Homo sapiens: one gene and its partner. The protein of the gene in region 1 purifies or fractionates together with the protein of each later gene. This does not show direct contact. Each region holds a gene or a part of one and is shown on either strand. Other genes may lie near its edges. The genes, in order: CDC42SE2 and SSC5D.

Region 1 (3,819 bases):
ACAGGACAGTGGCATCTGCAGGACACCAGACTCTTCCCCAGGCGTTTGCAGTAAACATGTCAAGATAACTGCTTCTGATATGCAGAGAGAGCCACTTGGCTCTCTCAAGCAGGGGAGGAGGTGGTACCAGAGAATACTTCCTGGTACCTACTTCCAGACCACTAGGAGGAGTCTTGATCAACCCTTGTCCTGTGAACCTGCAGAAGCAACTCCTAACAGTTCTCATTCTGCATCATTTCCTCCAGAAGGGTGTGTTTAGAGCTTGCCAAAAGGCTCCACTTGGTCTATACCTCCATATTAAGTGATTTATTCTGTTGAGTTACTGCAGGACTGTGTTGGGGGAGAACAGAAACCATAGTGTGCTCAGGCCACCACCCATCTCACCCAAAAAGAATGAATAGATATGCTTGTGAAAGAAGGGTATTAACACATACTCACAAACAATAATTCAGCAAACATGATTACTGAGAATATTCAAAAGCTGATAACAAAACTAGTTCCCAAGAAGCTACTCTGACACTGAAAAGCAAAGGATGGGAAGACTTCAGCTTACTTCTATCATACTGTGTTATTAGATAACTAATATATATGAATGTGAAAATAATAGTGAGTATTTTTCAGCTTGAACTATACTGAGCTGGGAGTCACACCTTAGTATTGGAAGGTTTCTTCATGGCATCTAATCTAACAGTTTGTGAGATATGAAAGAAGCTTTCAGTCCTTCGCTCCCCAAGGCTGAGGGAACTCAGCTGTCCAGAAACTGAAAGGAGCAACTGTGTTGTGCGAGCATAGTAAAGGTAAACACCTAAGATGAAAATAGTAAGATAAGCAAGAACCAGATCACATAGAGTTTGTAAAGGACTGAAGTGTGTGATCCTCCCAAGAACAATGGGAAATAATTGAAAGTGTTTTAAAGCAGAGGAATAACATGATTAAATAGCTTGAGAAGACTATTCCACAATAGCTATAGGTGGAAAACATGTTAGAAGAGGTCAAAATAAGTTATTAATGTTGGTGAAAAGGGATTATGTGGATTCAACTAATAACACAGATAGAAGTGGATAGATTCAAGAAGTAGTCAGTGGATAAAATCAACAGCATTTGGGCCGGATGTGGTGGCTCACGCCTGTAATCCCAGCACTTTGGGAGGCCGAGGCGGGTGGATCACCTGAGGTCAAGAGTTCGAGACCAGCCTGGCCAACACAGTGAAACCCCGTCTCTACCAAAAATACAAAAATTAGCCAGGCGTGGTAGCAGGTGCCTTAATCCCAGCTACTTGGGAGGCAGAGACAGGAGAATCGTTTGAACCCAGGAGGCGGAGGTTGCAGTGAGCCGAGATCGAGCCATTGCACTCAGGCCTGGGGGACAAGAGCGAGACTTCTCTCAAAAAAACAAAAAAAAAAACAAAAAAAAACAGCACTTGGTTGCAGGCTGGATTTGGTAACAGTGAGAGGGAGGAGTTAAGAAATATGCACAGACTTCAGATTTCAGCAGAGAGTGTGCAATTCACTGGGTTCTGAGAGAATCCAAACTGGAGATAAGAGACTGAGAATCACCAGCATTAACAAAGCCAAGTTAATGAGATTTCCTAGACAAACTAAATTTCTGTGGTTGGGCAGAGAAGAAGCCATCAAAGAAGGCCAAAAAGAAACAGCCTGAAAGTCAGTAGGAAAATCAGCAGTGTGTACAAGTGTCAAGAGGGAGCAGAGCTGAAAGGTGGTGAGAGGTCAATTAAAGACAAATACGTGCAATGGATTCAGCAATATCAAGTCAATGGGCACCTTAGTGAGTGCTATGTCAGTGGAGTAATAGGAGGAGAAGACACGCTGCAGGGGACTGAGGTGGGTCTAAGAAGTGGAAAATGGAGAAAGAGAACAGAGACAACTCTGGAGAAAAGTCTGGCCTTCTGGACAGGAAGAAGACAGGTCAGTGGCTGAAAGGAGAAAAGGAGATGAGAACAGATTGAATTTTTCCCCTGTAAGATGGCAGAGAATTCATTATGCTCAATTTCTAATGGGAAAGATCCAGTAAAAGAGGTACAGAAAAAGAAGGAAAAAGAAAATGGATTGTCAACCTTACAAGGTTCCTGAGAAGGCAGGAAAGGTGGATCTAGACACAGGTGGAAGTGTTCTTTACACTCTTTCCTACAACACTCTATCAAAAACCTGGATTTAAATATAAATAAATATTCTAAACTATAAAAATGCAGTATTTTAAGGCACAATGTGGACATTTAAAGAATGGCACACTTGTTTGGGGTACTGTATAATAGTCACGGGTGGCTGGGCATGGTGACTCATGCCTATAATCCCAGCACTTCAGGAGGCTGAGGCAGGTGGATCACTTGAGGTCAGGAGTTCAAGACCAGCCTGGCCAACATGGCGAAACCCTGTCTCCACTAAAAATACAAAAATTAGGCCATAAGAATGATCAAATGGACTTGGGGCTCTGGAAGAGTGGGAGGGGGGCAAGGGTTTTATAAAAGACTACAAATATGGTGCAGTGTACACTGCTCGGGTGATGAGTACACCAAAATCCACAAATCACCACTAAAGAACTTACTCATGTAACCAAACACCACCTGTAGCCCCAATAACTATGGAAAATTAAATATTTTCTTTAAGAAAAAAAAATTAGCTGGGCATGGTGGCAGGCACCTGTAATCCCAGCTACTTGAGAGGCTGAGGCAGAAGAATCACTTGAACCTGGGGTGGGGGGTTGGCGGGGAGAGGTTGCAGTGAGCCGAGATCACACCACTGCACTCCAGCCTGGGTGCCAGAGTGAGACTCTGTTTCAAAAGAAAAAAAAAGAATAGTCATGGGCAAACAAGGGGAATTCCAGAGTCAGACCTCCGCAAAGAAAAACAGGAAATGGTGCACTCTGCTCTGATACGTATTAACAGTTGTCGTTAGCAGAGTCACCGTGTTTCCTGGAAACAAATTCTTTATAGGAAACTTTGTTAAGACCGTCAACCATCTGAATAATCCTTGCATCCTTAAAATATTAACTTTTATTCTGCATAAGGTGAAGGACTAGAGACCCAAATGAACTGCTATGTTAGTGTGGAGGGGACATTAGGCAAAATGTCTCTTCCCATAACTTTTTACATAATTACATCATAATTATTAAAGATAATGAACTAAACAATTTGGAGTATATCCAAGGAGGCGAGAAGCAGGTTAATTTCAAAGGATTTGCTACTGTGAGAACCTTATTTGCATCCTTATCTAAACAATATGTATATAACCATACTATATCTACCTCCCTCACATTTCTGGCATATGGATCAACTGTAGCTTCTAGAAAACAGTAATTACATCATCACTTAAAAGTTAAAACTTTCCCAAAGACTATTCTCTGGGCAGCTTAGTGTGCAAACACATGTCACTGAGAAGCAAATGAAGGCCAGGTCCCATCAGGTTAGCAGAAGGCCTACAGTAAGAGTAAAAGATGGTACAGCCTGAGGTAGTTCTAGAAGCAGATACAGAGTGAATAAAGAAAATGAAAATACTTGCCATCTGGGACAGTGAAAAAAGCTGGAACTTTCAGGGTATAAAATAGCAATCATTTATGCAAATGTGGCCAAAGTAAATGAAAGGTTGAAAGCTATGCTGACTCAACTTTATGACCTAGAGAAAGTCAGTTGAGTTGTGTAACTAAATCCCTAAATCTATGAATTAAATCTAACAAGCCCACTATTTCCAAATTGTGTCTTGGGGCATCCCAGCAAAACCCAGGGGTGCCAGGGTTTTCTATTTGAGGGAAACACAGTGAGGCTCAATGTGTGTTTGACACTGAGTGAACTACCAGCTTCAGATA
Region 2 (3,819 bases), on another chromosome or scaffold:
CACTGAGCTGGGTTCAATGCTCTGCTGTTGCGTCTGGGAGCGTGTGATAATTCTTGAACAAGGGGTCCTAACTTTCGTCATTTACCAAGCCCCCAAAATTCTGTAGCCAGTCCTGGATAAGAGAAAGGATGCTGGGCTGAGAGTCTGCTCTATTCCCAAGCTGCACGGTGTGGCTGTAGGATCCATCATGGGGTACTCAGGCCAGCTTCAAGGAACAGCCCTGCTCAAACATTACCTTTACTTTCCAGAGTCTCTGGTTCTTTAGCAAATGTGATCAATGGTTCTGCCTGCCTCCTTTCATATATATATATATATATTTTTTTTTTTTTTTTTTTTTTTTTTTGAGAGTGGATTTAATTCTGTCACTCAGGCTGGAATGCAGTGGTGTGATCATGGCTCACTGAAGCCTCAACCTCTCAACCTGCAGGCTCAAGTGATCCTCCCACCTCAGCTTCCCAAGTAGCTGGGACTACTAATTTTTTGTATTTTTTTTTTTTGCAGAGATGGGGTTTGCCATGTTGCCTAGGCTGGTCTTGAACTCCTGATCCCAAACCATCTGCCTGCCTCGGCCTCCCAAAGTGCTGGGATTAGAGGCGTGAGCCACCGTGCCTGGTCTCTTTCATGAGTATTGAAAGGACTGTTGTTTTAAAATATAGGTGTTATTATTACTGAGGTATGGTGAGGCCAGGATCTCAGGAGATGACAGCCACTAAAAAGATTGTGACTGACGGTTCTCAAGAGGATGGCGTGCCACACGGGGCCACACAGGGAAGCACCAGGGCCAGGCAGGAGGTAGACGGAGTGAGGGGGAAGCATGGCAGGAATCTTTTATACATTTATTTAGAGACAGGGTCTCACTTGGTTGCCCAGGCTGGAGTGCAGTGGTGTAATCACAGCTCCCTGCAGTCTCAAACTGCTGGGCTCAAGTGATCCTCCCACCTCCGCCTCCTGGGTAACACAGCTGCATGCCACCGAGCCTGGCTATTTTTTTTTTTTTTTTTTTTTTGTAGAGACAGGGCCTCACTATTGTCCAGGTTGGTCTCAAACTCCTGGCCTTAGGTGATCCTCCTGTCTTGGCCTCCCTAAGTGCTGGGATTATAGGCGTGAGCCACCCGGCCAGGTGCAGGGGTCTTTCTTGTGTTTTTTGCAGGAAGGAATAGGTGAGACAGGTTGAGCAGGCTTAGAACTGGCTGGTTTGAAGAATTTCAGTGGGGCCGGTGGGGAGGGTGGCGACTCAGAGGGTTGTCCTTAGTCATCTGGTACTTGGCCCTGGGGCAATGAGGACAGGTGCAGAATGGCCCAGGGTGTGAGAGCCCAGTGGAGAGGGTGGTTTGCACACGAAAGGCATGCTCAAGCCATTTACCATCTCTAGGAATTAGCTAACCCTGGGAGGGGCAGTCCCTCAGGATCAGGAATGCTCCAAGATGTCAAAGCATCAGAAATACAGAAAATAAAAAGGCGTGGTTAACACAGCTGTCTCCTCAAGATGGGAAAAGGCCGAACAAAAGCAGCAACTTATTTTCACCATGATCACCATTCCCAGAGGTCTCGTTCCCCTTTTCCTGAATAATAATATCAGCTAACACTGAACGAGCATGCACTGGCTCCTGGTGACTGATGCTGTTCCCAGTTCTCTCCGTGTCTCAGTCCAGGTGATGCTTACAGCCACTGTGGTGTGGATACTGATAGGTCTCCATGTTACAGATGAGGCAGCACCGCTGAGAAATGGGAGAGCCAGGATTCAAGCAAAAACACTTGTTCCAGGGCGCACGTTCTTTAAAAAACAATTGTGATAAAACATACATGACATAAAGTTTACCATTTTTACCAGTCTTTTTTTTTTTTTTTTTTTAAACAGGGTCTCGCTCTGTCACCCAGGCTGGAGTGCAGTGGCACGATCTTGGCTCACTGCAACCTCCGCCTCCCGGTTCAAGCGATTCTCCTGCCTCAGCCTCCGGAGTAGCTGGGATTACAGGCTGAGCCACTGCACCTGGCCCATGCCTGGCTAATTTTTGTATTTTTAGTAGAGACAGAGTTTCTCCACGTTGGCCAGGCTGGTCTCAAACTCCTGACCTCAGGTGATCTGCCCGCCTGGGCCTCCCACAGTGCTGGAATTAACAGGTGGGAGCCACCGTGCCGGGCCTGCTGCTCCCTGTCTTTTAAAGGACTTCCTCTGAGAAGCCTTCTCCAGCTTCCTCAGGCAGAATTTTTCTCACCTTCTCCTCGTTGTGTGTCTGCCTTGCCCTTTGGGTACTTCCACTACTCCCTTTAGCTCGCTGAGCTGTAATGAAGTGTGTGCATGCTACTTTCCCTGAAGACCGAGAGCTTTTCAAAGCAGAGGCTGTGCCTGACTCATAAACAACAACAAAACACCTTATTATCCCTGGTGGTCTAGTGGTTAGGAAAATAAAATCTAAGAAAGAAGAAAAAAACCCTTATTAAACCAATAATAATGAGAGAAAATTAAGGGTGGTGAACAACTGCATGGAAAAAGACTTATTTTAATTGAGGTGACATTCATGTAACATAAAGTTAACCAGTTTAAGTATACAACTTAAGTGGTATTTATACATTCAAAATGCTGTACAACCACTACTATTTGGCTACTGTGAATGGTGCTGCTATGAACATTCACATACTGGTATCTGTGTGAATACCTGTTTTCAGTTTATTCTGGGTATATCCCTAGTAGCAGACTTTCTAGATTATATGGTAATTTGATGTGTAGCTTTTTGAGGATCCTCCAAACTCTGCCTGACTCATTATCCCTCATGCCTAATGCAGAAAATGGCACAAAAAAGGCCTCATGAAATACTTGCTGCCTGGAGGAAAGGATGGATGAATGGAGGGAAGGCCTAGATGGATGAGTGGAAAGGAAGATGGGGGGAGGGAAAGGTGGATGAAGAGTCAGGAGGCTGGGCGGCTTCCCCGACTCTAATTCTTTGGGTCTCTTCTACCCCAGGGTCCCCCCAGCTGCGCCTGGTGGCTGGGCCCAGCAAGTGCTCAGGTCGACTGGAGGTGTGGCATGACCAGCGCTGGGGGACCGTGTGTGACGATAGCTGGGACATGCGGGATTCAGCTGTGGTCTGCCGGGAGCTGGGCTGTGGTGGACCTCAGCAGCCAGACCCTGCTGCTGGCCGCTTTGGCTGGGGTGCGGGCCCCATCTGGCTAGATGATGTGGGCTGTGTGGGGACCGAGGCTTCACTGTCCGACTGCCCTGCTGCTCCCTGGGGAAAGCACAACTGCGCTCACAATGAGGATGTTGGGGTCACCTGCACTGGTAAGGAGGCCCTAGCTATCTGTTGACTCCAGGAGGGCTTCCTGGAGGGGAACAGTAACTAACATGGGCACTAACATTGATTGAGTGCTTCCTAAGCCCCAGCCCTGTGCTGGGTGTTTTTGCACATATAACCACATTGAAATCACATAATAAGTCTAGGGTGGTGTGTGTTATGCCCATTTTACTGATAAAGAAGCTGAGGCACAGAGAGGTTGGGTAACTTGCTCAAGATCACACAGCAACAACTAACTGGCAGATCTGGGATTCCCACTCAGAGAAGCTTCTGCTTCCTCTTCCTTCCAGGAATCAAGGAAATTTCCCACTAAGAAAGGAGCTTTAGCTTTCCTACGATGAAAGGAAGCAGGCAGGGCACTGGGAGATGGAAAGAAGCCAAAGTGAGAGCCAGTTAACATAAACTCAGGCAATGCCTGTTATTAAATTGCAGAGGCTGAGCCAGGTGCAGGGTCCTCATGCTGGGCTCATGAATGGAATGAACATGGTCTTGGTCTTTGAATAGCTCACAGCTCATGTAGAGAAAT

Evidence for each region.
Region 2: the proteins of CDC42SE2 (region 1) and SSC5D purify together in Homo sapiens (affinity purification with mass spectrometry; one large-scale study listed by BioGRID and IntAct). This does not show direct contact.

Annotation. Positions count from the first base shown.
Region 1 is NC_000005.10:131,378,908-131,382,726, reverse strand, and holds part of CDC42SE2 (CDC42 small effector protein 2), read right to left. Parts: intron 1-3,819. UniProt on the Homo sapiens protein: Probably involved in the organization of the actin cytoskeleton by acting downstream of CDC42, inducing actin filament assembly. Alters CDC42-induced cell shape changes.
Region 2 is NC_000019.10:55,494,918-55,498,736, forward strand, and holds part of SSC5D (soluble scavenger receptor cysteine-rich domain-containing protein SSC5D isoform 1 precursor), read left to right. Parts: intron 1-2,962; coding exon 2,963-3,280; intron 3,281-3,819.